Linked DNA regions of Homo sapiens. The protein of the gene in region 6 purifies or fractionates together with the protein of the main gene of each other region. This does not show direct contact. Each region holds a gene or a part of one and is shown on either strand. Other genes may lie near its edges. The genes, in order: FLVCR1, CHORDC1, LRRC41, NUMBL, KDM8 and UNC5CL.

Evidence for each region.
Region 1: the proteins of UNC5CL (region 6) and FLVCR1 purify together in Homo sapiens (affinity purification with mass spectrometry; 2 studies listed by BioGRID and IntAct, with this or other methods). This does not show direct contact.
Region 2: the proteins of UNC5CL (region 6) and CHORDC1 purify together in Homo sapiens (affinity purification with mass spectrometry; 2 studies listed by BioGRID and IntAct, with this or other methods). This does not show direct contact.
Region 3: the proteins of UNC5CL (region 6) and LRRC41 purify together in Homo sapiens (affinity purification with mass spectrometry; 2 studies listed by BioGRID and IntAct, with this or other methods). This does not show direct contact.
Region 4: the proteins of UNC5CL (region 6) and NUMBL purify together in Homo sapiens (affinity purification with mass spectrometry; 2 studies listed by BioGRID and IntAct, with this or other methods). This does not show direct contact.
Region 5: the proteins of UNC5CL (region 6) and KDM8 purify together in Homo sapiens (affinity purification with mass spectrometry; 2 studies listed by BioGRID and IntAct, with this or other methods). This does not show direct contact.

What each region holds. Positions count from the first base shown.
Region 1 is NC_000001.11:212,892,241-212,897,128, reverse strand, and holds part of FLVCR1 (choline/ethanolamine transporter FLVCR1), read right to left. Parts: intron 2,144-4,888; coding exon 2,076-2,143; intron 1,914-2,075; coding exon 1,839-1,913; 3' UTR 1-1,838.
Region 2 is NC_000011.10:90,215,581-90,220,468, forward strand, and holds part of CHORDC1 (cysteine and histidine-rich domain-containing protein 1), read right to left. Parts: intron 2,605-4,888; coding exon 2,555-2,604; intron 1-2,554. UniProt on the Homo sapiens protein: Regulates centrosome duplication, probably by inhibiting the kinase activity of ROCK2. Proposed to act as co-chaperone for HSP90. May play a role in the regulation of NOD1 via a HSP90 chaperone complex. In vitro, has intrinsic chaperone activity.
Region 3 is NC_000001.11:46,276,211-46,280,253, forward strand, and holds the end of LRRC41 (leucine-rich repeat-containing protein 41), read right to left. Parts: coding exon 3,982-4,043; intron 3,405-3,981; coding exon 3,282-3,404; coding exon of another isoform or gene 3,232-3,281; exon of another isoform or gene 3,054-3,231; intron 3,048-3,053; coding exon 2,972-3,047; intron 2,875-2,971; coding exon 2,655-2,874; 3' UTR 2,073-2,654; coding exon of another isoform or gene 1,862-2,072; 3' UTR 1,771-1,861; coding exon of another isoform or gene 1,607-1,770; 3' UTR 1,252-1,606; downstream 1-1,251. Other genes in the region: RAD54L (DNA repair and recombination protein RAD54-like), read left to right, coding at 1,607-1,770, 1,862-2,072. UniProt on the Homo sapiens protein: Probable substrate recognition component of an ECS (Elongin BC-CUL2/5-SOCS-box protein) E3 ubiquitin ligase complex which mediates the ubiquitination and subsequent proteasomal degradation of target proteins.
Region 4 is NC_000019.10:40,680,113-40,685,000, forward strand, and holds part of NUMBL (numb-like protein), read right to left. Parts: intron 4,445-4,888; coding exon 4,305-4,444; intron 2,857-4,304; coding exon 2,782-2,856; intron 2,691-2,781; coding exon 2,616-2,690; intron 946-2,615; coding exon 805-945; intron 1-804. UniProt on the Homo sapiens protein: Plays a role in the process of neurogenesis. Required throughout embryonic neurogenesis to maintain neural progenitor cells, also called radial glial cells (RGCs), by allowing their daughter cells to choose progenitor over neuronal cell fate.
Region 5 is NC_000016.10:27,206,060-27,210,947, reverse strand, and holds part of KDM8 (bifunctional peptidase and arginyl-hydroxylase JMJD5), read right to left. Parts: intron 856-4,888; coding exon of another isoform or gene 825-855; coding exon 327-824; intron 1-326. UniProt on the Homo sapiens protein: Bifunctional enzyme that acts both as an endopeptidase and 2-oxoglutarate-dependent monooxygenase.
Region 6 is NC_000006.12:41,032,136-41,037,023, reverse strand, and holds part of UNC5CL (UNC5C-like protein), read left to right. Parts: intron 1-1,888; 5' UTR 1,889-1,949; coding exon 1,950-2,334; intron 2,335-2,842; coding exon 2,843-3,143; intron 3,144-3,877; coding exon 3,878-4,140; intron 4,141-4,886; coding exon 4,887-4,888.

The DNA.
Region 1 (4,888 bases), on a different chromosome or scaffold from region 6:
AGTGTGATTTTCGCTCACTGCAACCTCTGCCATTCGCATTCAAGCGATTCTCCTGCCTCAGCCTCCTGAGTAGCTGGGATTACAGGCGCCTGCCACTGCGCTAATTTTTGTATTTTTAGTAGAGATGGGGTTTCACCATCTTGGCCAGGCTGGTTTTGAACTCCTGACTTTGTGATCCACCTGCCTTGGCCTCCCAAAGTGCTGAGATTACAGGCATGAGCCACAGCACTGCGCCTGGCCTTTTTTTTTTTTTTTTTTTTTTTTTTTTTTTTTAGTAGAGATGGGGTTTTACCATGTTGGCCAGGCTGGTCTTGAACTCCTGACCTCAGGTGATCCACACGCTTCAGCCTCCCAAAGTGCTGGGATTACAGGCGTGAGCCACCACGCCCAGCCTAAATATTTCTTTATAGCAATGCAAGGATGGCCTAACACACTGCCTAAATCAAAATTGCTATTCACTTCAAGGGTATTCATTACCTGACTAGCTTTTTTGGGTGCATATGAACATAATGTAAATTTTATGGCTGATCAAATGTCATTACTATGAAGATACTCCCTATGAGCTCACAGAGTCAGGACATCAACAATATTTAAACTCTCACTGTAAACATGACACAGTGGTAGGCACTGTGGAAATATATTTGGTCCTATTTTCCCTACCTGAGCATGTAAAAGAGCAGACTATTCTAACAGTGTGATGACTCTGCAGTGAAGAAAAGAATCCACTCTCCCGGCACACTGATAGAGCATGTACCTGGGCATAGTATTCCTCAAAGGAGAATGGTCATAAAAATGATACTGCAGAATTCAAATAGCATTCAAGAGGTCTCCACTAAATGGGGACATGTAGGCTATCTGAAGTTATTATAGATTTCCTTATTTCAGGAATCTTCAAGGCAAAATATACGATGTGATACATGAAATCATGAAATAGCCAGTAACATACATGATGAAATTATCTTACTAGAAAGTTACACATCAGGAAAAAAAAAAAAAGAGAGTTTAAAAGAAAAAAAAGGCAATGGGTACAAAACTACTCTATCTCAAGTTGGAGTGAAAAAATACAGCGTTAGCATTTATCCATGATAGAAAGGCAGCACAGAAAAGAACTCAAGACAGAATGAACCTGTAACCAGGCTCCTTAATTAGAACATAATTCTAAGACCAAAGTCTGGGTAGAATCTGTACACAGAATAGTTTTTATAGCCATTGACTGCATGTGTTAAAAAGTACTTTGTAACAAGAGTACAATAAATGGGAAAAATCTTAGAGGTCATCTGAAAGCCTGATCCCAATGCTGTCCTTTGTGGGTGAGTAGTGTCATGTTGGTATGTTGTACTCAAACTGAAGTGGCTTGAACAGCTGGTCAGCACAGTGAAAAAGGCAGCCAATTAGGAATATATTGTACATTTAGTTCCACTGGATACTTTAATATATAAACTGCATGAACTATTATATCTTATGGGGACTGAACACCCCATATTATCACTTTAAAAAGTATTCTAAGCTTCCATTTTCTACAAAAAAGAAAAACATCGACTTTTAAAAAGTAAACGTCAAGAAGCTTACTTTCAGATACAATATGAGACTAAAAACCGGATACTAATTAGATAAACAGTAGTGTTAACATGATGTAAACAGAAGAATTTTAAGAAAATTTCCCTTAATTTAACAATTAAGCAAAATAATAATTATGCATTTAGAGTTCATATGGTAATTTTCAAGTAAGTGTGTTTATTCCCCCACCACATACAAACCCAGCCTTGGTGCTCACATCTCTCTCCAAGGATGATCACATTGTCCCCAATTACTACAGGACAGTAACTTTGCCTTTCTCTTCAAATTGCTGATTCTGACTGCTTGGACAACATAACCGTTTTTGGTTCTTGGTCTGTGGGACTGTCAGCTGGTATCTATAAAAACAATCAGAAGATTAAAAATGTATAGCATCTGGCATATCCTATTATAACAGATCAACAGTTGACTCGGGAGAAAAATAGCTAAATAAAAAAATATGGTTTCACATTTATTCTATACATACTTCTCAACAGTATAATCATAAAAATATTACTTACAGCTTTAACATCAACATTTGTAATTCCTATATTTATGTTGTGTCTTCGCAGATCAGACTTGATTAATGCTGAAACAGAGGGGCATCAAGTTACTATAAACTGTTATGTGAAGATTTTTTTAAAAAGCAGCTCAAAGTCTTTCTTGGTATTGTCAAATTTAATGCACTGTAGTGTCATGATATTTAATAGCATCCCAACAGCCTAAAAAATAATAGTACCTCTCTAAAGTTGTTAACAATTAATAAGTCATTCATTATTGAACAAATACGGGAATGCTAGCAACCAATGATACAAAAATGAAAAGTGTAATTCTTTTTCTTAAAGGACTCTCCAATCTAGGGAAACTTTGACATGTAAACAAGTATAACAGTGTGTGATAATTGCAAGGTATGGTGGGGAAGTGGGAGCAAAAAAAGTCTATGTCAGCCAAAGGAAATTAGAGAAGGCTTTCCAGAGAAGACATACTTGATACTGGAAAAAACTGAGTAATAACTTGTCAAGCAGACAAGAGGAGAGGAAGGCATTCTAGGCAGAAGGGAATGCAGGTATATCTCAGAGACATTGTGGGTTCAGCTCCAGATCACCACAAAAGAGTGAATATTGCTGGGCGTGGTGGGTCATGCCTGTAATCCCAGCACTTTGGGAGGCCGAGGTGGGTGGATCACAAGGTCAGAAGATCGAGACCATCCCGGCCAACACGGTGAAACTCCATCTCTACTAAAAACACAAAAAATTAGCCAGGCGTGGCGGCACGCACCTGTAGTCCCAACTACTAGGGAGGCTGAGACAGAAGAATCACTTGAACCTGGGAGGTGGAGGTTGCAGTGAGCAGAGATCGCACCACTGCACATATTTTTTGGTTTTCCAGTGCATAAAAAGTTATGTTTATACTATACTGTAGTCTATTTAAAGTTTGCAATAGCATTATGTCTAAAAAAAAAAATCAATCTACATGCCTTAATTTAAAAACACTTTACTGGCCAGGCTCAGTGGCTCATGCCTGTAATCCTAGCACTTTGAGAGGCCGAGGCGGGTGGATCACTTGAGGTCAGGAGTTCGAGACCAGCCTAGCCAACATAGTGAAACCCCCATCTCTACTAAAATACAAAAATTAGCTGGTTGTGGTGGTGGGCATCTGTAATCCCAGCTACTCAGGAGGCTGAGGCAGGAGAATCACTTGAACCCAGGAGGCAGAGGTTGCAGTGAGCCCAGATGGCGCCATTCCACTCCAGCCTGGGCAACAAGAGCGAAACTCCATCTCAAAAAAACAAAACAAAACAAAAAACACTTTACTGCTAAAAAATGCTAATGATTATCCAAGCCTTCTGCAAGTTATCTTTTTGCTGGTGGAGGGTCTTGCCTTGATGTTGATGGCTGCTGACAGATCAGGGTGGTGGTTGCTAAAAGGTGGGAGCGGCTGTGGCAATTTCTTAAAGTAAGACAGTGACGAAGTTTGCCGTATTAATCAACTCTTCCTTTCATGAAAGATCTCTCTGTGTGCAATACTTGTTTGATAACATTTTACCCACAAAACTTCCTCAAAACAGGAGTTGATCCTCTCAAACCCTGCCACTGCTTCATCAGCTAAGTTTATATAATATTCTAAATCCTTTGTTGTCATTTCAACATTTACAGCATCTTTACTAGTAGATTCCAACTCAAGAAAACACTTTCTTTGCTTATCCATAAGAAGCAACCCAGCCAGGCGCAGTGGCTGACACCTGTAATCCCAGCACTTTGGGAGGCCGAGGCAGGCAGATCACAAGGTCAGGAAATCAAAACCATCCTGGCTAACATGGTGAAACCCCGTCTCTACAAAAAATACAAAAAATTAGCCGGGCGTGGTGGCGGGCACCTGTAGTCCCAGCTACTCAGGAGGCTGAGGCAGGAGAATGGCCTGAACCCGGGAGGCAGAGCTTGCTGTGAGCCGAGATCACGCCACTGCACTCCAGCCTGGGCAACACAGCAACATTCCGGCACCCCCCCCCAAAAAAAAAGAAGCAACCCTTCATTTCTTCAGGTTTTACCATAAGATGCAGCAATTCAGTTACCTCTTCATATTCCACTTCTAATTCCAGTTCTCTTGTTATTCCCACCACATCTGCAGCTATTTCCTCCACTGAAGTCTTGAACACCTCAAAATCATCCATGAGAATGGGAATTAACTTCCTCCAAACTCCTGTTAATGTTGATAGTTTGACCTCCTCCCATGAATCAAGAATGTTCTTAATGGCATCTAGGATGGTGCATCCTTTCCAGAAAGTTCTCAATTTACTTTGCTCAGATCCAAGAGAGGAATAATTATTTCTGGCAGCTACAGCCTTTTGAAGTGTATTTCTTAAAGAATAAGACTTGAAAGTTGAAATTACTCCTTGATCCACGGGCTGCAGAAGGGATGCTGTGTTTCCAGACATGAAAGCAACATTGATCTCCTCGTACATCTTCATCAGAGCTCTTGGGTAAACAGGTGAATTGGTCAATGAGCAGTAGTATTTTGAAAGGAATGTTTTTCTCAGTAGCAGGCTTCAACAATGGGTTTAAAATATTCAGCAAACCATGCTACTAACAGATGTACTATCAACTACGGGGTTCAGGTTCATTGTTCCATTGTTAGAGCTTAGGCAGAGAAAATTTGGCCTAATTCTTAAGGGCCCTAGGATTTTCAGAATGGTCAACAAGCATTAGTTTCAATGTGAAGTCACCAGCTGCATCAACCCCTCACAAGAGAATGAGCTTGTCCTTTGAAGCCAGACATTGATTCCTCCTCTCTAGCTATGGCAGTCCTAGATGGCATCTTCTTCCAGTATAAGCCT
Region 2 (4,888 bases), on a different chromosome or scaffold from region 6:
TAAGTATAGGTATTTTACTTTTAAAATCTATTAAGTTAAAGATAGTAACTATCTTTAGTTAATTTTAATTTCACAATAAGCATTCTATTTTCAGAACAACAAAGATTAATTAACACAGCAGCTAAAGCACTATTAAGCCTTTGAAGGTGATCTTTTCAGTGAGAAGCATAAAGACAGAGAAACTATTAGTATTTGTGATTTTTGAACAAACTATCAAGTAGTTTACCAAAAAATGGCTTTAATAATTATCTCTAAATTCCAATGTTTATAGAGCATAGGGAAACAAAAATGCAAAATCTCAAAACTTGGAACTTCAGATTAAGATTTGGGACTAAATTCAGATTAAGATGCAACTTTGCACACATCCGCCTGGACCTCGCTGATTTTCAAAAGACTGCATAAAAATATGGTAGTGATTTTTCTCATTATATGCACCTGTAGGTTCTTTTTCTTTAAAGGTAATTTCAAATATCCTATAATTCAAATTTTCCTTTAATTTGAAATTTAATTATCTTTTACTCCGAATTGAGATGTAGATCAATTACTACAACCTTAAATATAGGGTTTAAATAGCATCAATAATATAGTCAACAGAAAAGTTATTCTATAAGAGAAAAAGTTTTACTGTCTTAATCATGTACTAAATTATGTCAGATACTGTGATACACACATGTAAAATACAATACAGGCCAGCTGTTCCCAAATGCCAATCTGGATTCTATGCTAGTCTTCAGTACAATGAGAAAAGGAAAGATAAATTTAAGTTATGTGAATATAAGGTTGCTAGTTGTCTTTTTTCAGCAAGATTGTCCTTTTCTCTGAATATGCCCCTTCTAATATTAAAATAGTATTTCTTTTGTCAATGCAATGTTTAACTTCTTACTTGGTCAACTAGTATCCCTGTATTGATGTATACGCATTTTGTCTGAAATCTTCTGGACTGTGAAATCCAATAATCTTGGAAAGTCTAGGACTTTAAGAAATGGTTATAAAATAGAGACCACAATAAACACTACAACTGCAAAAGAGAGAGAAGCAAAAATACTTCAAAGTGAATTCATTAAGACTTGGAGTGATTAACAATGCGGTAAGAGAAAAAACGGGCAATGGACCAAATGATCAGAAAGTCAGTAGTATCATTACTAGGAGCAGTAAAGTTGAGAGGCAGACTACTTTTGGAATAAACGGTACACACTAGAAACTGGTTTGATGTTGCCAATGAGACACATAAATAGAAATATGTTGTAAGAGCCATCGGCGTAGAGGTGACATTTGAGAAAACCAATGAATGAACTGAATGAGAGAAAACAGCCAAAGGTTACCTTTAAGAGCTAAGAGGAAAACAGCATAGGGAAAAAAAGAAAAAGACACAGTAAAACAAAAATATCAGAAGAAATGGCAGTCTAGGAAAAATAAAATTCCACAAAAAGAAAAATAAACATTTCCACAGCACCACAGTTTCCACCACAACAAAGATTTGTAAAAACTAAAAAAATGTATGGAGGAATAAGGTCTCAACTTGCCCTACTGAATGTCTTCTCTGTTTTCCTCACTCAGAACTAACCAGACTAATACATCTTTTGTTAGATTTGGTGGTGTTAACAGTGAAGTGCCAAAACAGTCTAACTACTCTTTGGAAGGTATAATTAGACATTTAAAGGGCACCAACAATATTTAAACATGTTAAGACTGCTTATGTTCCTGAGAACCAAAGAAGTAGAACCTAAAACCATGGCAGCCCTACCACAGCATCATCTTTTGAGATATACAAAGGAAACTCTTTAAATGTATCATACTATCATGAATTTTAAAAAGATGACCAGCAAAAACCTAGTCAAACAACATTCCACCAATTCTCCAGAACATCCAAGAAGTATAGCTGGAAAACTCACAGGTCTGTCCCGAGATTGGCACTAAATGTTTATAAGAATCTTTTCTAAAATTCAGAGCTGTTATTAGCCAGTAGTGACAGACTGAGATTCAATACAACCACTCTATTTTCCCTCAAAATTAGAAAAGTGAAGAAATGGGTGTAGAAAATGAAAATTAAGACCAGGCATGGTAATCCCAGCACTTTGGGAGGCTGAGGCAGGTGGATCATCTGAGGTCAGGAGTTCGAGACCAGCCTGACCAATATGATGAAACCCTGTCTCCACTAAAAATACAAAAATTAGCTGGGCATGGTGGCAGGTGCCTGTAATCCCGGCTCCTCAGGAGGCTGAGGCAGAATCGCTTGAACCCAGGAGGCGGACGTTGCAGTGAGCTGAGATCGCACCACTGCACTCCACCTGGGCAACACAGTGAAACTCCATCTCAAAAAAAAAAAAAAAAACCCAGAATTAAAATACAATTTTATAACTGGAAAAGACCTTAAGATCATCATCTACTGTCTTTTCTTTGTCTTTAGTGGAGTATACGCTTAAAGCACCTCCCCCGCAAAGGTCATTAAGAAGAAAGTCACTAGCTGAGAAAAAAAGATGAGAAAATAAAGATTTAGTATTACATCTCTCAATTTACTACACAGATATGAAAAAAATGAAAATATAGTTCCTACCTTTAATGCATCGTGAAAGACCGGAACACCTGGGTGGTATGTGCAAGCATCTGGAGAAAACAGAGAAAAAAAAAAAAGTACCACTCTTTATAATGAAGAAAAATATATACATGATCATCTCCTTAAGGTGTTAACCTTTAATCCTTTTTCCAAACGCAAGTACCTTAAAAAGGTACAAATGATTGAGTTTGACGTGCAGCACAAAGTGTACTATATTAAAATAGTATTAAAAATTCTAATTCAAGCATATGATGACTAAGGACAAAAATACAGAATTGTTTATGTATAACAATTATATTTTATATTCCCCTAATCTTGGTAGTAAAATTTGTTTAGTACCAAAACTTCAAACCCCCAAATTTTGACCATCATTTTTCAAACCTGCTTTTACAAATGTACTATCAAACTTGAAGTATTCTTATGTGCATTCATCCATAAAGGTTTCACAAGAGATTCCCTTAAAGACATTTTGTAATAACAGGCTCAACATTTTAAATACTGTAAAGATTTTTTGCAGTATCTAATTGGTAATTTAACTTTCCTAGACACAGTCATTCCTAGGTACAAACCTCACTAAAAAGAAGACTAGGGTGCCTCTGCCTGGCCCCTGCCCTGTTTGGGAAGTGAGGAGCTCCTCTGCCCTGCCCCCGCCCAGTCTGGGAACTGAGGAGTGCCTCTGCCTGGCGGCAGCCCTGTCTGGAAAGTGAGGAGCACCTCTGCCTGGCCACTGTGCAACCTTCCAAGTGTGAAGTGACAGCCTTGTGTGTGATCTTTCTGCCTTCCCCAAGTGTGCATTTTCAACATTAAAGTTTACTTTTTAATTAAAAAAAAAAAAAAAAATAGAAGTCTAGGTGGGCCTGGTGGCTCATGCCTGTAATCCCAGCACTTTGGGAGGCTGAGGTAGGCAGATCACCTGAGGTCAGGAGTACGAGACCAGCCTAACCAACATGGTGAAACCCCGTGTCTACTAAAAATACAAAAATTAGCCGGGCGTGGTAGTGCATGCCTGTAGTCTCAGCTACTCAGGATCTTGACAGGAGAATCGCTTGAACTTGGGAAGCAGAGTTTGCAGTGAGTCAAGATCATGCCACCGCACTACAGCCTAGGTGACAGAGCAAGACTCCATCTTAAAAAAAACAAACAAAAAAAACTCTCAAGTTCTACAGCCTATTTTCTAGATTCTCACTGGGTGTTATTCTATACTTCCCTCCCCACTACACCATCAATCTTTACTTCTCTTATGTAAATGGGTTTATTACAATTTGTGTTGGGAACAGGCCCCCAAATCTGGCCATAAACTGGCCCCAAAACTGGCCATCAACAAAATCTCTGCAGCACTGTGACATGCTCGTGACGGCTTTGATGCCCAGGCTAGAAGGTTGTGAGTCTACCTGAATGAGGGCAAGGAACAACTGTCCCACCCAGGGCGGAAAAACACTTAAGGCATTCTTAAACCACAAACAATAGCATGAGCCATATGTGCCTTAAGGACATGTTCATGCTGCAGATAACTAGCCAGAGCCCATCCCTTTATTTCCCGTAAGGAATACTTTTAGTAAATCTCCATTGGAGGCTCTCAGCTCTAAGGCTGTGAGACCCCTGATTTCCCACTCCTTACTATATATTTCTGTGTGTGTGTCTTTAATTCCTCTAGCACCACCGGGTTAGGGTCTCCACGACCAAGCTGCTCTCAGCAATTTGCAAGATGGAGTACTATATTTTTAAAAATCAGGTAACAGTCAGCTTCATCCCTCTGCAATCTGCTTAAAAGACTATCTTTCAACCTTTCAAGTCTATTTAGCTTTCAATGCTCTACAACAACCTTGTCCAACATGCCGCCCCAGACAACTCTGAATGTAGCCCAACACAAATTTCGTAAACTGTCTTAAAACATTATGAATTTTGTTTTTGTTTTCTTTTAAGCTCATCAGCTATCATTAGTGTTAGTGTATTTCATATGTGACCCAATTATTCTTCTTCCAATGTGGCCCAGATAATTCCTCTTCTTCCAATGTCGCACAGGGAAGCCAAAAGATTGAACACCCTTGCTCTATCACCTGATTCCTGGTGTTGCCTCAAAATTTACTACTGGTGCTCACAGAAATCTCCCTACCCCGTTACTAGCCAGTATTGCTTCCTTAGTAACCATGTGCTGCATAGATACTAGCTAATGTAGAAAGTGTTAGGTATCTTCCTGATACAGTAAGTAAATCCGTGGGATCAGAAAGATGTTATTAATTAAGGGTAGTTGTGGAATTAAGGGCTGAAAAAGGAGGTTGGAAGTAGAAATGGGTATGCAGAAGGACATGAAGTTGAGAGGGGAATGGAAGTAGA
Region 3 (4,043 bases), on a different chromosome or scaffold from region 6:
TCTGTTGCCTAAGCTGGAGTATAGTGGCACGATCATGGACCACTGCAGCTTCAACCTCCCACCTCAACCCCCTGAAGTAGCTGGGGCTACAGGTGTGTGCCACCACACCCGGATAACTTTTTTTCTTTATTTTTTGTAGAGAAGGGGTCTTGCTATGTTGCCTAGGCTGGTCTCGAACATCTGGACTCAAGCGATCCACCTTGGCCTTCCCAAGTGCTGGGATTAACGGCATGAGCCACCACACCTGGCTCCCCTTCTGAATGTTGTTCTTAATGGCTCCATTATCCACCCAACCCAAAACTGGGAATAATCTTACTGGACTATTCTTTTCTCCTAATAACCAGATTCCCACCAGTTTTCACTGATTTTTACCTTCTTGAAATTTCCTTAATCTAACCTTGCTCTCCAAGCCCTCCTGAGGTCATGGTCATCTGTCACTTGGATATTGCAGCAGCTTCCTAATTGTTTACTTCTGTCTTATCCCAACCCATTGTTCACATACTGCTTCCAGAAGGAGCTTTCCAAAAATTCAGATTTTATTTTTCGTCTCTTCGAAGACAAGATTAAGGCCTTCAGCATGGCATCCAAGGTTTGTTTTTTGTTTTTTGAGATGGAGTCTTGCTCTTGCTGCCCAGGCTGGAGTGCAATGGCACCATCTCAGCTCACTGCAACCTCTGCTTCCCGGGTTCAAGCGATTCTCCTGCTTCTCCTGAGTAGCTGGGATTACAGGTGCCCACCACTACCCCTGGCTAATTTTTGTATTTTTAGTAGAGACAGGGTTTTGCCATGTTGGTCAGGCTGGTCTCGAACTCCTGACTTTGTGATCTGCCTGCCTCGGCCTCCAAAATTGCAGGGATTACAGGCGTGAGCCACCGTGCCTGTCCCCAAGGTTCTTTAATGTGGCCTCTGCTGACTTCCCAGTCTCAGCTCTTACTATACTCCCACCAACCTCCAGTTAGCCTGAACTACTCACAGTCCTCCAATAGGCCAGTAGTATTCCTTTGTTCCTATGCTGGGAATACCTTTCTTTGTGTCTTTTCTTACAAACCATCTACTCATTTTCAAGATTGAGCTCAAGGATAGAGTTTCAAGTTTTCAATACTGTTCTACTCTACCATCCTTATGGACTCGCAGTTACCCTGTATAGATTTCTATCATTGTATCAACTGTTTAAATGTTTGTCTAGGAGCTAAAGGATAGGGGATATATATGATTCTTTTTTGTATGCTAATGTCAGCACAGGGTCTGGAATAGAATAGATACCTAAATGATATTTATTGAATGAGTTAGAGTTGGGCTTGGTGCAGAAATCTGAAGCTGCAGCAGACAAACCTCAGTTCACCCTGACGGGATTTAGCCAGGCCCTGGGACCCTTCATTAGTATAGAAAGTAGCCTGGGTGGGCAGACTATTCATGTCATGTTCTCAGGAGACAGACTGGGAAAATGGACCTCAGCTGAGTAGAGATAATGTTCTGGGACTCATACTTTTTATTCATCTCCTCTTCTCGGGTAGCTGTAGTTTCAACCCTTTGGTTTTCCTGCTCCCTTTTTATGAGGATGGCTAAGCGCTGTATCTTTTGACATTCCCCACCTCCTCTTCCCCAGGCAGGGACCATTGAGGAGAAGATCTTCCAGCGTCAGAGCCACAAGAAGGCACTGAGCAGCTGTGTGGTGGATGAGGAGCAGGATGTAGAGCGCCACTTCTCTCTGGGCGAGTTGAAGGAGCTGTTTATCCTGGATGAAGCTAGCCTCAGTGACACACATGACAGGTGGGGAAGTGCCCTAACCATTATCTCTAAGCTACCCACACAGTAGGGAGATGGGATCTGTAGTGACTTCAGCTGTGCCTTCTGTCCCTAGGTTGCACTGCCGACGTTGTGTCAACAGCCGTCAGATCCGGCCACCCCCTGATGGTTCTGACTGCACTTCAGACCTGGCAGGGTGGAACCACTGCACTGATAAGTGGGGGCTCCGGGATGAGGTACTCCAGGCTGCCTGGGATGCTGCCTCCACTGCCATCACCTTCGTCTTCCACCAGCGTTCTCATGAGGAGCAGCGGGGCCTCCGCTGATAACCAGCTGGTCTGGGTGTAGCTCTTAGAGGAAGGAGATAGGGAAAAGGGGCTCCTTGCTCCACAGGGCCCTGTTGAATTTTGTTCTCTGGGAGAAAATCATCAAGAAGGGCTGCATGATGTTTGCCCAAAATTTATTTTATAAGAAAAACTTTTTTGGTTAAAAAAAAGAATAAAGGTATGAAAGGGTTTGAGGCCTGAGAGCAGTGTGGTAAGCCCAGCAGGGAAGAAGCCCCCTATACTTCTCTAAAGCCTGGGTGCCTGCTTGAGGAGGGAAGGCAGGAACCCAGGGGCAGGGGAGGGGATCTCTTCAGCAATTATGATGACCACTGTAACCTCCTGGCCCAGGGTTCCCAGGATACTGAGTAAGGGGCCCAAAGACTATAAACCCAGCTGTGAGAATGCCTGTTTGCTGGGCCTCATCAAGGCCTCCAGGACCTCAGTGCAAGGGAAGAAGGAAAAAAGAGAAAAAAGGTGACAGAAAGAGAAAGATAGAACTGGTGGTTGGGGTTCTGGGCAGCCCATGCTTCAGCCCCTGCAAGCTGATGGTACCGAGCATGAGACTGTGAGGTACGGGCCCCATCACATGGTGCTAACATAATCTGCGAAGGCCTGGGATGAGTCCCATGAGTCGCTAACCACATGGCAGGTAGCCCGGAGCCGCCGGATGGCTTCCCTGGCTGTGACTGCATCCTGGTCCAGCCAGTTTTGGAAGAGGCGCAGGTGACCAAAGGCTCCACGGCCCCAGCGCTCCAGCCGCTTGGCGAACTCCAGAAGCCCATCTGGCTTGATGCAGTTGGAACTGGTAGGGTGAGATGGATTAGATATCCAGGAAGCAGTGAATTCCTGGTCTATATCTCTGTAGCCCCATCCCTTGTCTTGCCCCTCCCCTCATGTACCTGATGTCCAGCTGACAGAGAGAGGAGGATGAATCCTCTGAGAAAACATCTGCCAAGGCCAGCAGGCCAGCATTCCCTGGAGAGAAGGGGAGAACGCCTATCACCTCCACCCAAGAACAGGGGACAAGGGTATCCCAACCCAACTATGGCTGGCAGAACCAGCCCTGCTGGTTCCTGAAGCCCCAGCACAGAAATATCTGTATTCCAACTCCCACGTTCCCAGTGGAGAGGTCTTTGCCTTTATCCAGTGAGTTTTTAGGTCAAAGGCCTAGCTCCTTTCCCCTCTCCCTCCCCAGGGTCTGGCCCCCACCCAGGCGGTTCCCTGGCAGCCGGAGGCCCTTCAGTGTGGAGTTGCCCTTCATAGCAGCAACCATCTCAGGCAGAAATTGGGCTGGGCGCTTCTCAAACAGACGGCAGAAGGAGAAGGTAATCTCTGTCAAGAAAAATTATAGTAAATTCTGATGGCTGCATTAGGACTGGTGCTGCCCCTCCTGCCCCAGTTGGCCCTAGCAAGGGGTATTAACATTATAGAGGCCCAAAAAGAGGAAGGAATTTGTCTAGACTCCAAGCAAGGCTGGAACTAAATCAGAATCCAAACTAAAGACTGAACCTAAATGTTCCCTATAAGAAGGTTCTCTGCATGGACAATTCTCCATTCACTTCCTTCTTTCCCTAACACTGGCCACCCTCTATGCGGGGGTGGGGATCAGAGAAAAGTCTATGAGGGGAGCCTGGCACAGTACATTTATTTTGCCCCACCACCACCATTTTGTCCACCTCTGAAAGGTAAGAGCAACTTTTGGGTGAAGCACTCTAAAAGAGCGATTTCTCATGTTTAGTAGAGGAGGAATTGAGGTTGGGGCTTTTAGAAGGAAAATCATGCAGGTTCTATATCCATTTTATAGCTGAGGACACAAGGCCAAGAAAGGAACAGTGGTTTGCTCACTCAGATTATGGCAGAACCATAGTGAAGACCCAGGAAATGTCCAGGTTCTGAATAAGGAACTTACCTTGCAGAGTCAGATTCTGTAGCAAAAAGAGCACCTCGCTCTGACAGTCAGCGAGATTCATG
Region 4 (4,888 bases), on a different chromosome or scaffold from region 6:
TTCTCATCCCCAAATAGTTTTTTTTTTTTGTTTTCTTGAGACAGAGTCTCGCTCTGTCACCCAGGCTGGAGTGCAGTGGTGCAGTCTTGGCTCACTGCAACCTCCGTCTCCAGGGTTCATGTGATTCTCCCCACATGTGATTCTCCTACCTCAGCCTCTGGAGTAGCTGGGATCACAGGCGCCTGCCACCATGCCTGTCTACTTTTTTTGTATTTTTAGTAGAGATGGGGTTTTACCAGGTTGGCCAGGCTGGTCTCAAATTCCTGACCTCAGGTGATCTGCCTGCCTTGGCCTCCCAAAGTGTTGGGATTACAGGCGTGAGCCACCACGCCTGGCCAATACTCTTTTTTTTTTGAGATGGAGTCTCACTCTGTCTCCCAGGCTGGAGTGCAGTGGTGCAATTTTGGCTCACTGCAACCTCCACCTCCCGGGCTCAAGTGATTCTCCTGCCTCAGCCTCCCAAGTAGCTGGGACTACAGGTGTGCACCACCACACCTAGCTAATTTTTTGTATTTCAGTAGAGATGGGGTTTTACCATGTTGTCCAGGGTGGTCTTGAACTCCTGAGCTCAGGCAATCCCCCCGCCCCAGCATCCCAAAGTGCTGGGATTACAGGTGTGAGCCACTGCACCCGGCCCTCACGTGAATACTCTAAATTGGGAACCGTGAGTATACTTTCTTCTCCAGATGAGGAAACTGGGCACACAGAGGTTAGTGATGTGCCTGAATGCAGGAAGCTTGTAGGGGTGGGGCTGGGATGCCAGGGCATGGGAGGGAAGAGTTGGCCAGCTGTGGCAATACTCACGGAGTCCTTCAGTGCCAGAAAACAGTGGCAGATCCAGCGGCGGGTAGTCCCGTCACGACAGATATAGGAGAAAGCCTTGTCCAGGTTGCGGTCAGGAGCACAAAAGGAGACCTTTTCGATGGTCTGGTCGACCAGAAGATCCTAGGAGGGGCCGGGGAGGCCAGGAGAAGAGTGTGAACTCTCTTTCAAGTGTTCACTCAACATTCTCTCTGTGTCTGCTGAAATCCAGTCCTGAACAGGGTGGGGACCCAGCAGTCACTGAGACACCCTGTGCCTTGCCTGCAGAGGGCTCCCAGGTCAGCGGGAAGATCAGACCCATCACGAGATGGGCAGCCCAGAGTCATAGCCAGGATGTGATGAAGGAGGCCCAGGCAGAGGGGTCAGGGCCAGGACCATGGAGGCACAGGCAGAGGGGTCAGGGCCAGCATGGCAGAAGCCAGCTTGGGGTCAGTCAGGCAAGGCTTCCTGGAGCAGGTACTAACTAAGAAAAAAAGTCAAGGAACAGTATTTTGGGCTGAGGGAACTGCCTTGCAAAGGTGGTGATCTTGTTCTGTTATTAACCCAACTCTCAGCATGTCCTGGGCACCTCCTAGGGCAGTCTCTGGGCTGGGGGCAGCAGATTCAAGGTGAGCAAACAGATACCTAGATTGTGGCCTCATAGTGCTTCCTTCTGACTGGGCAGGGTGACAATAAACACTTAATGGCTAACATTCATTGATCTGAGCAGTTACGATGTACTAGACCCCATTTAAATATATATATATATTTTTTTCCCAGAAGGAGTCTTGCTCTGTCACCCAGGCTAGAGTGCAGTGGCATGATCTTGGCTTACTGAAACCTCTGCCTCCTGGGTTCAAGTGATTCTCCTACCTAAGCCTCCCAAGTAGCTGGGATTACAGGCACGCACCACCACGTCTGGCTAATTTTTGTATTTTTAGTAGAGGTGGGGTTTCACCATCTTGGCCAGGCTAGTCTCGAACTCGTGACCTCAGGTGATCCAACTGCCCTGGCCTCCCAAAGTGCTGGGATTACAGGCGTGAGCCACCGTGCCCAGCCCACATTTAAATTTTTTTAAAAATTATTTTGTATAGATGGAGCCTTGCTATGTTTCACAGGCTGATCTTGAACTCCTGGCTTCAAGGGGCCCTCCCAGCCAGGCACCATTTCAAATAACTTGCATATGCTTTCTCACTTAATGGTAGGGTCTATTATAATCCCTGTTTTTCTGCGATGGAGTTTAGCTCTTGTTGCCCAGGCTGGAGTGCAATGGCATGATCTCCGCTCACCGCAACCTCCAAGTCTCGGGTTCAAGAGATTCTCCTGCCTCAGCCTCCCAAGTAGCTAGGATTACAGGTACACACCACCATGTCCAGCTAATTTTTGTATTTTTAGTGAGATGAGGTTTCACCATATTGCCAGGCTGGTCTCGAACTCCTGACCTCAGGTAATCTACCCTCCTTGGCCTCCCAAAGTACTGGGATTACAGGCGTGAGCCACCACTCCCGGCCTATAATCTGCATTTTTCAGATGACACAACTGAGACTCAGAGAGGTTAAATCTCATGCCCAGGGTCCCTAAGCTGGGATCGGAGCTGAGGCAGCTGCTCCAGTCTCTCTCACCCACAGCCTATGCCAGTTCCCAAATAATCACAGCATTTATTCCTGAGTTATGACGACAGAGGGAGCACACGGCATCGTCTAGAAGGTCCCTGAGGGAGGGATGTGCAGAGGAGGCGGGAAGGTGTCCTCCGCCCTGATTCCAGCAGGGTGAGCAGACAGGCCCCCTGGCGTCCACCCCCACAGGCCTCCTACCTTGGTTTTGTCGTCCACCACTCGGAGCCCATCGGCTGACACCCACAGGACAGACTTCACGGACTTTCGGCCCATCTGGAGGGAGGCAAGGGGACAAAGGAGCCGGGTCAGGGTGCCTCTCCCTGTCTGACCTTGCCCCCTCCCTCATGGCAGCCCCCTCACTCACCGCCTTCAGCTTCTTCACCGCATCTTCACACACGTGCATTCCCCGGGACTCCTCTACCTCCACGTGACCCAGGTACTTGGGTTGGAGGGAATGGGGGGGGGGACATGAAACAGCACAGTAATCACTCATTCTCAGTGTCCACTGAGCATCTGCCATGCAGTAGACAATATTTTAAGCACATGATGTGTATGCAATCATTTATTCTGCATCTCAACTCTACAAGGTGGAGACCCCATTCCTGGTCTAGACATGCAGATGGGGAAACTGAAGCACAGCACGTAGTAGTGATTCCAGTCTAGCTATACCCCTGGGCCCTAACCCGGCACCGTGGTCCTCCCGAGAGCTAGTATTTGCATCTCTGTGCGTGAGGACTGGCCACAGGCCATGCAAAGCTGCTTTGCCTACCCTAAAGCAGCTAGAAAGAGCCTGGGCCAGTCCCCACAATGACTGAAGGGAGTTAGGGTACCTGAGCCCCAGCTCCCTCATCTGCAGGTGGGATGACTGTTGCCTCGAGTTTCCCAGGGGAAAGCTCAGTTGCACACTGCTGCAGTTTTAATAACACACCCTTTACTGGCTGCCTTACTTTCCTCACTCCCAACACCATTTCCTGCACCTCCCAAATGAAGCCGTCACATTCAAAGTCTGCTTCCAGGGAAGGGAACGTAAGGTGGTGGAGGGGCTGTGACCATGGTCAGTCATCACCCAGCCAGGAAGGGGCTGAGCTCCACAGTCCACGCCGTGAATCCTGCTCTCCCCCTCACAGGAATGTAAAAGCGTAGGGTATGGCTAAACCAGAACGTCCTTATCGGTAGAGCGCTTTGCAAATGCTACACCACATGACGGCTTCCAGGTAATAGTTTGCTGGTACAAAAAAATGTGTTCTGGTTTTTTGTTTGTTTTCAAGATTGGGTATCACTCTGTTGCCTAGGCTGGAGTGCAATGGCACAATTAAGGCTCACTGCAGCCTCGACCTTCCTGGACTCGAGTGAGCCTCCCACCTCAGCCTTGTGAGTAGCTGGGACTACAGGTGCGTGCCACTGTGCCTATTTTTTGTAGAGACAGGGTCTCCCTGTGTTTGCCCAGGCTGGTCTTGAACTCCTTGACTCAAGCAATCCTCCCACCACAGCCTCCCAGTGTGCTGGAATTACAGGTGTTAGCCACCACTACGCTTCAAGTTTTTTTTTTTTTTTTTTTGAAACAGAGTCTGCTCTGTCGCCCAGGCTGGAGTGCAATGGCGCTATCTCGGCTCACTGCAATCTCCGCCTCCCGGGTTCAAGCGATTCTCCTGTCTCAGCCTCCCCAGTAGCTGGGACTACAGGCGCCCGCCACCACGCGAGGCTAATTTGTTGTATTTCTAGTAGAGCCGGGGTTTCACCGTGATAGCCAGGACTGCCGGCCTCACGCTTTTTAACACCAACTTCAAACGACTTGGGCTGGTGTCCCAGCCAGGCCGCGCACCCGCACAGCACAGCACAGCGGCCCCCGTCCCCCTCGCCCCGCCGCACCCTGCCGCGCCCACTCACCCTGACCGGGAAGCTGCACGTGCCCTTCCGCACCGCGTCCTCGTCTGCCTGCCACTGGTGCGGGCGCGACGCCTCGGGCACGTAGGCTGGCTTCCTCCGCCGCAGGCTCTGCCGTAACTTGTTCATGGTGCCCGCCCCGTCTGGTGACACAGGACAGTGATGTGGGTCAAGGGTGGGGGTCAGAAGGTATGGAGCTCAACGGGGAGGGACCAGTGCTCAGGGAGCATGGGGTCAGATAACAAGATAACTGGAAGCGGGGTTACAGGGTCAGTTGGCAGCGCACATGGGATCAGCAGCTCAAGTCAGGGGACAGTGAGGAAAGGAGCCAACAGAAGCCAGGGGAGTGCGAAAGTTGGGCACTGGGGATTCAGAACCATGGGGCTAAGGGGCTGGAGGTCTGGGGTGGGGGGTATGGGGCACAGGCTTCAGGGCATTGGAGGGCTTCTTGTCCATGTGGTGGATGCTTCCTCATTCCCAGGGCCGTGAGGACACAAAGGGTGGGAAATCAGACGTAGGAGGGCATGGGGGCTAGAGGGCATAGAAGTCAGGGGCCGCACGGTCAGGGGTTTTAGGGGTATGAGAGT
Region 5 (4,888 bases), on a different chromosome or scaffold from region 6:
AATAAGAAACTAAAAAAATTAGCTGGGTGTGGTGCCATGCACCCATAGTTCCAGCTACTAAGGAGGCTGAGGCAGAAGGATTGCTTGAGTCCAGGAAGTGGAGGCTGCAAGGAGCCGAGATCACACTACTGCACTCCAGCCTGGGCGACAGAACGGGACCCTGCTTCCAAAAACAAACAGAAATCCAAAATCAATGGCAATGCTGTTTTCCACCAGAGGGGTTGCAGGCCACGAGGCCTCACCCCAGGGGAGAGATGACTCGGAATTTCTAGAACAACAGGGTTGCTGGATGGCTAGTGTGCTTGGGGAGAATCTCCCCCACATACCTTTGTGCAGGGTTGCTCTGGGAGGGAGCCACGGGCAGGCCTCTTTCCAGGGAGGTGTGTCTGGAGGATGGCAGCGACTTTAAGAAGGATGTCCCCCAGGATGGCTGCCCCCATCAGCAGGCCCATGTCACAGACCCGCAGGGCTGCGGCCACAGTGTTGGCATCCTCAGGTGCCTGGCACAGACACAGGGCTTTCAGGAGGCAGCCGATGGCGTAGACCCGGCGCCAGTCTTTGTCTACGTCCTGCCATGTGCCCGTGTTGAGCTTCTCCCAGGAGTAGTCCAGGATCACCTCGCTGCTCTGCAGACACTCGTCCCTCCTGCCCTCGTAGAAGAGCTCAGTGGCTCGCTGCAACAATGTCACCACGCTCCTCTCCACTTTCTCCCCGAGGTCCAACTTCAGGTCTTCTTTACTGTGCGGCAGGAGCGCCCTGAGGGCCTCCCATAAAGTGCCTTCTCTGGCCAGGGGCTCTGCGGGGCAGTGGGTGTCTCCAGCCATCGGGCCACCACCAGCTGGTTCAGTCCCGTGCCTGGGGAGGTGGAGAGAAACAAGAGTTAGACACCAGGACAGACCTGATCCCCTGTGCATTCCCGCAGCTTCCTGCATCTCATCTGCGAGGATTTTTCAACAGCAGTCTTCTCTGTTGGGCAGAAGCTCTGGAGGGGAGGGCCCTCATCTGTCTGGGGTCACCACTGTATCTTCAGGGCCTGGCGCAACACCTGGTACTCAGCAAGCACTGGATAAACGTCTGTTCAGAAAGGAACGTGTATTGTCCTCATCTGCAGTGCCTCCCATACCCCTCCGCTGCCTGGCAAACTCCTACCCAACCTTTAAAGCCCATCTTAAATATCCCTATGTGAGGCCTGCCAAGACTCTCCAACAGTGTTCTGTGTTCCTGCAGCCCTTGAGCTTCTCTTACAGTACTCGTCAGGATGTATGAAAACACCTGCTTACACGTGTGTCTATCCAACACTGCACTGCCAGCTCCACCAGGGCAAGAACGTAGCTCATTCCCCTACGTTTCCCAGAGCCTAAAAGCAGAGTCTGCCTCATGGCAGTCACTCAGGAGTGCCAGGCTTTGAAAAGTATTCGAGAAGGCCGGCATGGTGGCTCACGCCTGTAATCCCAGCACTTTGGGAGGCCGAGGCAATTGGATCACTTGAGCTCAGGAATTCAAGACCAGCCTGGCCAACATGGCAAGACGCCGTCTCTACAAAAAATACAAAAATTAGTTGGGCACGGCGGTACATGCCTGTGGTCCCAGCTACTCAGGAGATTAAAGGTGGTGGGATCACTTAAGCCTGGGGGCAAAGGTTGCAGTAAGCCGAGATCATGCCACCAGCCTGGGTGACAGAGCAAGATCCTGACTCAAATTAAAACAAAAAAACAAAAATGAAGTGACTTGCCCCAAGGCCTACGGTCAATCATTTGTGCAGAAGCAGGGCTTAAATTCTGGCTGATCTCAGCACCCTCTCCTGTGCGCCATGTCAATGCTGCATGCTTGACATAGATTAACACGTCCCTTGCAATCCTATGATGGGAGTTTTACAGATGAATAAACTGAGATTTCGAGGTTAAGCAATTTGTGCCAAACTACACAGTAAGTGGCAGTGTCTGCCCAGAACACTCATTGCCTTCAAGGGTGAGCTCTTTGGACTTTGTATCCACAGGGCTGAGCTTATAATGAGTTCATTTCCATTCTTGGTTCACAATGAACTTTCTTTCTAGCAAGCTCAGGGTATGGTAGGGCTCAGAGAGCCCCAGCCTGCCAGGGTGGGTTCTATCTCTAGCCTCCTAGAAGGCTTGTGTTGGCCTCATTCACAGCCTTCTTGGAGCGTTTCACAGTCCAATTTCCAGCATGGACTTATCCACTAGGCCAGCACAAGACACCACATGGGCCCATCCCTGGCCTCCCTGGGTGGCCTCCTGGCTCATCCCGTGTGTGGCTTACATGAATCTTATAGAGCAACATGGAGAAGTCTCATCTTGAGCATCCAAAAGACCTCAGGGGCCTCATATCCTGGCTTCTCATAAAGGCCAGTGGAAAGGCCTCCCAGGAGACCATTTATTGCCCTACTATAAAACTGGCTTCCACTGGGGCTCTATGTACCAGCTTTGTAAACCTGTCTCTTGATGGCCTTAGAAAACAGCCTCCCAGAGGGTTTCAAATGGGCTATAAACCTGTTCTCTGCAATGCAGATTACGGGCTTTGTAAATTGGTGTTTCAGGGTGACCTTATAAAACGGCCCCTCACAGGGCGCCTATCAGCCTTACCAAGCCAGCTTCTCAAGGTGGCCTCACGTGTGCGGCTTTGTAGCCAGGTTCCCCCAGTGGCCCCGTGTCTGCTTTGTCACCTGGCCTCCCAGGGTGGCCTCATGTTTGGTCTTCATAGGCGGCCTATCTGCTACTTTGCAAATCGGCCTTGGAGACCTCATGTTGAAGGCCAATGGACACAGCCTTCTGGGAAAGATGGCCTCCTAATACTGTGAGTTGGCTGTACAAAACTATCTGCTCTTGGCCACATGAAATAGCCTTATGATTATTCTTTAATGCAGAGTTCTTCAATGAACGGCCTTATCAAAAGGCCTTCAGAGATACTTACGTTGACAATATATGATGGTTTTCCAGAGACAGAGGCTTCAGGATGGCTGTATAAGTTTGTTTTCAAAATGGCTTTTCAGATTGCCTCTGTATAAGCCACTTGAAATGGCCTCCCCAAAGGCCTCAAGATTATTATACACTATCCCCCAGCAGGGCACCTATAATCCCAGCTACTCGGGAGTCTGAAACAGGAGGACTGCTTGAGCCCAAGAATTCGAGACCAGCCTGGGCAACATGTAAAGACCCTGTCTCTAAAAACAATTAAAAAATTAGTTAGCTGGTCATGGTGGCACACACCTGTAGCCCCAGCTACTCCGGGAGCTGAAGCAGGAAGATTGCTTGAGCTCAGGAGTTTAAGGCTGCAAGTGAACTGTGTTTGTGCCTCTGCACTCCCATCTGGGTGACAGAGTGAGACCCTGTTTCAAAAAATAAAACTATAGCCTCCTACAAGGCCTTATGTTGGCAGCATGGTGAAGTGGCATTCTGGCCGCATCAGTCTTCTGCCTTGTTGCATAGGCTTCCCCAAACCTCTCATGATTTGGCCTTTTATGTAGTTACCATATCAAACAGCCACATCCTGGTATAGGAAGCAGTCTTCCAAAGCAGTTTTGTGAGATGGAGTCTTGCTCTGTCACCCAGTCTGGAGTGCAGTGATGCGATCTCGGCTCACTGCAAACTCCACCTCCCAGGTTCAAGTGATTCTCCTGCCTCAGCCTCTGAGTAGCTGGGACCACAGGCACGCATGCCATCACGCCCGACTAATTTTTGTATTTTTAGTAGAGACGGGGTTTCGCCATGTTGGCCAGGCTGGTCTCCAACTCCTGACCACAAGTGATCCACCCACCTCAGCCTCCTAAAGTGCCGGGATTACAGGTGTGAGCCACCACGCCCGGCCCTTGTAACTTGTTTTAAAAACTGGCCTTCCTATAGATGGGGGCTTGTCTGAGGACCAGGTGAAGTCAGATTTTGTCTTAGTTTTACAAATCGATCTGTGGTTTCTTCATTGTGCCAGGAAAGAATTGTTTGTTGTGTCCATCTACCCCGCTGGGAGCAGCCTCACATTGGCTCCTGTTAGCCATGCAAAATGGCCTTACAGAAGGAGTCTTGGTCTGGCTGGGGAAACACTCTCTTGCTGGCTGTATGAAACAATCTTCCAGGGTCACTGGCCTCATGGGCTATGAGAAGCAGCCTTCACACCACCAACCACTTGAGATGGCCCTCCTGGGAAGGTCAGGTGCGAGCCACAGGTCACTGCCTTTCTGAATGGCCTCAGGTCCAGGCTCATCAGCCTTCTGGCATTTCCCATATACTGGTCTGATAAAAAGGCTTCTTGTTGTATCAAGAGGTTTTCTAGAGGAAAGGACTAGCCAGAGTAGCCTTATGGCCTGGCTTTATTGATTGGCTTCCCAGAACTCCTCACTGAATTGCTGTTTATAAAGTCTTATATTAAGGCCACGTGCATCGCTCACGCCTGTCATCCTAGCACTTTGGGAGGCTGAGGAGGGTGGATGACCTGAGGTCAGGAGCTCGAGACCAGCCTGGCCAACATGGTGAAAACCCATCTCTAATAAAAATACAAAAATTAGCCAGCGTGGTGGTCCACGCCTATAATCCCAGCTACTCGGGAGGCTGAGGTAGGAGAATTGCTTGAACCTGGGAGGCAGAGGTTGGGGTGAGCTGAGATCTAGCCACTGCACTCCAGCTTGGGTGACAGAGCAAGAGTCTGTCCCTCCCGAAAAAAAAAAAAAGCACACGCACACAAAAGGCTTACATTAAACAAACAGGCTTCCAAAGGAGGGAGTCAAGAATAAGATGTGTGACTTGCCAGTTCCCTGCAAGAAGAAAAAAGATGTGTGAAGCAGTCTTTGAGAGTGGTGCCACAGACTGGCCTTCGAGAGCTCTACATAAAAGGGTTTATTGGGAGTTGTACAGATAGCCTTCTAGTGGCCAGGTATAGGTGG
Region 6 (4,888 bases):
AAAGCCAGAGGCTAGAATTAAGCAGGTGTGGGGAGCCTGGGCAGGCTACAGGGCAGGCGTGTTGGAAATTGTAGGGGCTGGAAGAGGGGAAGTAGGAGGAGGCGGAGGTGGGTTCTGGAGGGCCTCAGGAAGAGCTACTGGGAAGTCTCAGCCTGTGGCCTGGCTGGGTAGCCAGGTGAGCAGGAGGTGAGTGTATGCTTTTGCCCTGCCTCATTCCAGCTTCACTGTAGGGCTGCATCTTTGTGTTTTGTCTTCTTCATTTTTTTTTTTTTTTGCTTCCACTTTTAGCTTTTGTTGTTCTTGTTGTATGTTGCCTATCCCTGTGAGCTACCTTCAGGCCTTTCTGGCAGAAGGAGGGGCATAAAGAAACACATACATTTGGACAGTGCTTTCTCATCTACAAATACTTTTCACATGACCTTATGCCATCCTCACCATTACACAAAGAGGCACTTTTTCCCCACTTTTAATAGCTTCAGAAAAGAATTACAAAGTTAATACAAACTACATGCTTGATGTGAAAAATTCAAAGTACAGAGAAAAGGATTTAAAAAAATACAAAGTTTTTATTCACACCTTCCACCTTCTCAATTTGTTGTGACTCATGGGAATAGTTTGGGGGTGTGTCCTTCCAGACCTGCACAGTCTAAGACCGGATTCATTAGTACACGTGGCTACTGGGCACTTGAAATACAGCCAGTCCCAAGTGAGCTGTTCTGTTCATATAAATTACACATGGATTTCAAAGACTGGGTATGAAGGAAGAAAGTAAAAATATCTCATAATTTTATATCGATTACCTGTTGAAATAACATTTTGAATATATTGGGTTAAATAAAATGTATTAATTTCTCCTGTTCTTTTTAATGTGGCCATCAGGAAATTTAAAATTACATGTGTAGTTCACATTACATTTTTATTGTACACCACTGCTCCAGACCTTTCTCTATACCTTTACATTTCCATATATGCACCCATAAATATGTATCTATTTATATGCAGTTTTGTTTTTCACATTAATGAGCTCAGAATATTTTATCTCTCTGCGACTTGCTTTTTCCACTTATAGATTTTTTTGTATCAGCACTTGTAGATCAAGGTAGATATTTGGACAGATGAGGAAACTGAGGTACATTAAGCAGTATTGAGGCAGGAGGTGGGATTTGATTCCAGGCCAGATAGAAAACTGGCTGAAACAGGGAAAAGGCACCAAAAGCACCTCTCCATAAGACATGCCCACCAGTGCCATGACAGTTTACCACTGCCATGGCGATGCCTGGAAGTTACTGCCCCTTTCCATGGCAGTGACCCGAAGCTACCACTCCTTTTTCTAGAAATTTCTGAATAACCCACCCCTTACTGCATGTAATTAAAAGTGGACATAAATATGATGGCAGAAATGCCCCAGAGCTGCTACCCTGGGCACACTGCCTAGGGTTAGCTCTGCTCTGTAAGGAGCATACCTCTGCTGCTGCTATACTCTGCCACTTTAGTGAAAGTTGCTGTCTGACACCACTGGCTCACCCTTGAATTCTTGCCTAGGTGAAGCCACAAACCCTCCCAAACTAAGCCCCAATTTTGGGGCTCTCCTGCCTTACATCAATATGATAAGTTTACCCAGCCACAGTGACCAAGGTGACATTTGAACTCATGTTCTCTAACTGTAAACCCAAGCTCACTCTGCTTCAGAACAGTTTACCTTGATGTATTAGGTCACGGGGAGCCAGGGTAGGTTCTCGAGTAAGAGAGACAGGTTAAAAGAATTGGTGTGACTAAAGTGTGCAGTGTGCGCTGGAATGAAGACAACTTGCAGCTATGTGTAAGCCAAGCCTTGACCTCCACAACTTAAAAGGGCTTACCCTGACACTGACCCCTTCTTCCCCACCAGGCCTTTGGCTTTGGCTGGCACAGGGGTGAAGGAGAGCCAGCGGCATTGAGTAACCAGGCGAATGTGCCCCCAGGAGAGTTCATTCCAACCCTCCCAGTTCCTACTGCTGGTGGGGGTCCCAGTGGCAAGTGTCCTCCTTCTGGCCCAATGCCTTCGATGGCACTGCCCTAGAAGGCTGCTGGGGGCCTGCTGGACACTGAATGGTCAAGAGGAACCAGTGTCCCAGCCTACCCCCCAACTAGAAAATGAGGTCTCAAGGCAGCACCTGCCAGCCACACTGCCAGAGATGGTTGCCTTCTACCAGGAGCTACACACACCCACTCAAGGCCAGACCATGGTCCGCCAGTTGATGCACAAACTGTTGGTGTTTTCGGCTCGAGAGGTGGATCACCGCGGCGGTTGCCTGATGCTCCAGGATACAGGCATCTCCTTGCTCATCCCACCAGGTAACAGCTCCTGGCTCTCATCTCCGCATACAGTTGGTCAGACTGTACATTAGGTCACCACATCTGAGGGAGCAATGTTCATAGACACCTTTTACTTCTGATAATTGTTTATATTTTGAGTATAGCTTTATTGACTTCAGGGATGGACATATTACATATCTTTTGGGACAACTTCCTGGCAGGTGGAAGTAAAGTGCCTTGTTCTAATGAATCAGTATGCTGTGACAATTCTCTAGTAAAGGGAGGGAAGAGCACCATTTGCAAATTCACACAAGGCACACTATGGGCTAGCAGCAGCCTGGGTGGAAAGGGAAGTGTCTTGCTTAGGGTTACACTACAAGTCAGCTCCACAGTCGTCTTACTCTTGTTCATACCACTTCCCTGTGTGCCCTGCTGGGGGTCTCTCCTGGGCTCCTGCCCCACCTCCTTTCTCTCTGGCCTGGCCTCTTTCAGGGGCAGGGGTGTGCCTGCCTACCAGGCCCATCTCAGCTCTCCCTCTCCCTGCCAGGTGCTGTGGCTGTGGGCCGCCAGGAGCGGGTGTCTTTGATCCTGGTGTGGGACCTGTCGGACGCCCCATCGCTGTCCCAAGCCCAGGGGCTGGTAAGCCCTGTGGTGGCATGTGGCCCCCATGGGGCCTCCTTCCTGAAGCCTTGCACTCTCACGTTCAAACACTGTGCCGAGCAGCCCAGCCATGCTCGCACCTACAGCAGCAACACTACCCTGCTGGATGCCAAGGTATGGAGGCCCCTGGGGCGGCCGGGGGCCCACGCCTCCCGGGATGAGTGTCGCATCCACCTCTCCCACTTCAGGTAGGCACATGCCATTGGCCTGTCTTCCCACACCCATCTCTCTGAGGACTGTCTTTCCTGCCCACTTTCTCTGTCTGCCTTATCTTCATCTCTCTGTATAGAAGATGGTCTGCAAATCCTTTATCCCCTGGTGTCTCTTTCTGGCCCCTCTGTCCTAATGTTTGTAGCAGTTTTTCTCACATCAATCATGTCCATGACTGCAAATCCCATTGCTGTCTCTCTGTCTGTCTGGAAGTGTCTGACTCAGCACCATCTCTCCATCTAAGAGGGACCTGTCTTTCCCATCTCTCTCTGTCTTTCAAATTATCTCTCTCTACACTGTGCCCCTTTCAGGACTGTCCCCAGGCTTAGCACCAGTTCTCTAAGACTCCATTCCATCTCTGTCCTTCTTCTCTTTGTCTTTCTAGAGTCCTAGGTCCTCTGCCTCCCAGCCTCCTTGCCACCCATTGACAGGAATAGGGCCATGTGCGGGTGCCCTCCCAAGCATGGTCACCCTGAGCCCACTTTCCCTCTCTCCCCTGCCAGCTCTCCTCCCCATTCAGTCACCAGTCACTGTGACATGCTCACTTTTCATCCCCAACCTACCAGTTCCTCCCTAAGTGCTCCCCTCGAGTGTTCTCTGAACCTCCTTGAAGGCCCCACAGAGGCCCCTCAGGTGGCAGGAGGCTGGTGGCAGTGTGTTGGTGTCTTAGCCTTCCCTGCACATTAGTGCCTGCCACTGGCTCCCTCTGCAGCCTCTACACCTGTGTGCTGGAGGCACCTGTGGGGCGCGAAGCCCGCAAATGGCTGCAGCTGGCCGTATTCTGCTCACCGCTGGTGCCAGGACAGTCCCATCTGCAACTGCGTATCTACTTCCTCAACAACACGCCCTGCGCCCTGCAGTGGGCACTGACCAACGAGCAGCCCCATGGTGGGCGCCTGCGTGGGCCCTGCCAGCTCTTCGACTTCAATGGGGCTAGGGGCGACCAGTGCCTGAAGCTCACGTACATCTCAGAGGGTGAGGGAGGCAGTGGCCTGTGGGATAGGATGATCGGGAGCCCCACAGGAATGAAGGGTTCTGGGCCTCCCCTGGACATCTGGAGATCTGGGGATCCCAAGTCTCTCTCTCTTTTTTTTTCCCGAGATGGAGTTTCGCTCTGTTGCCCAGGCCGGAGTGCAGTGGCTTGATCTTGGCTCACAGCAACCTCCGCCTCCTGGGTTCAAGTTATTCTCCTGCCTCAGTCTCCTGAGTAGCTGCAATTACAGGTGCCCACCACCATGCCTGGCTAATTTTTTTGTATTTTTGGTAGAGACGGGGTTTCATCATGTTGTCCAGGCTGGTCTCGAACCCCTGACCTCAAGTAATCTACCCGTCTCGGCCTCTGAAAGTGTTGGGATTATAGGTGTGAGCCACCACACCAGGCCCCAAGTCTGTTTGTGACCTCTGGGCCAGCAGTAGCCTCATGGAGCCCCCAGGGCTTTGACCACTCTGCTGTCTACTGAGCCCTTGCCACTCACTCCTTGGACAGGGTGATGCCAGGTGGCAGGTGGGAAGGAGAGGGGTTATACCCCACAGAAGCAGGAAAGGATGGAAGGCTTTTATAGTGCAAGGGCCCTCTTGGGGTCCCAGCCCAGGCTCTGGGGATTCCCATTCCCTTGAGACCCTCCTGCCTTTGTTCTGTCCTCATGCCTCCCCACAGCCCCCTTCAATACTTGTTTAAGGCCCCACTCTCTGAGGCCCTCTGCTGTCTGCCTACTCACCAGGT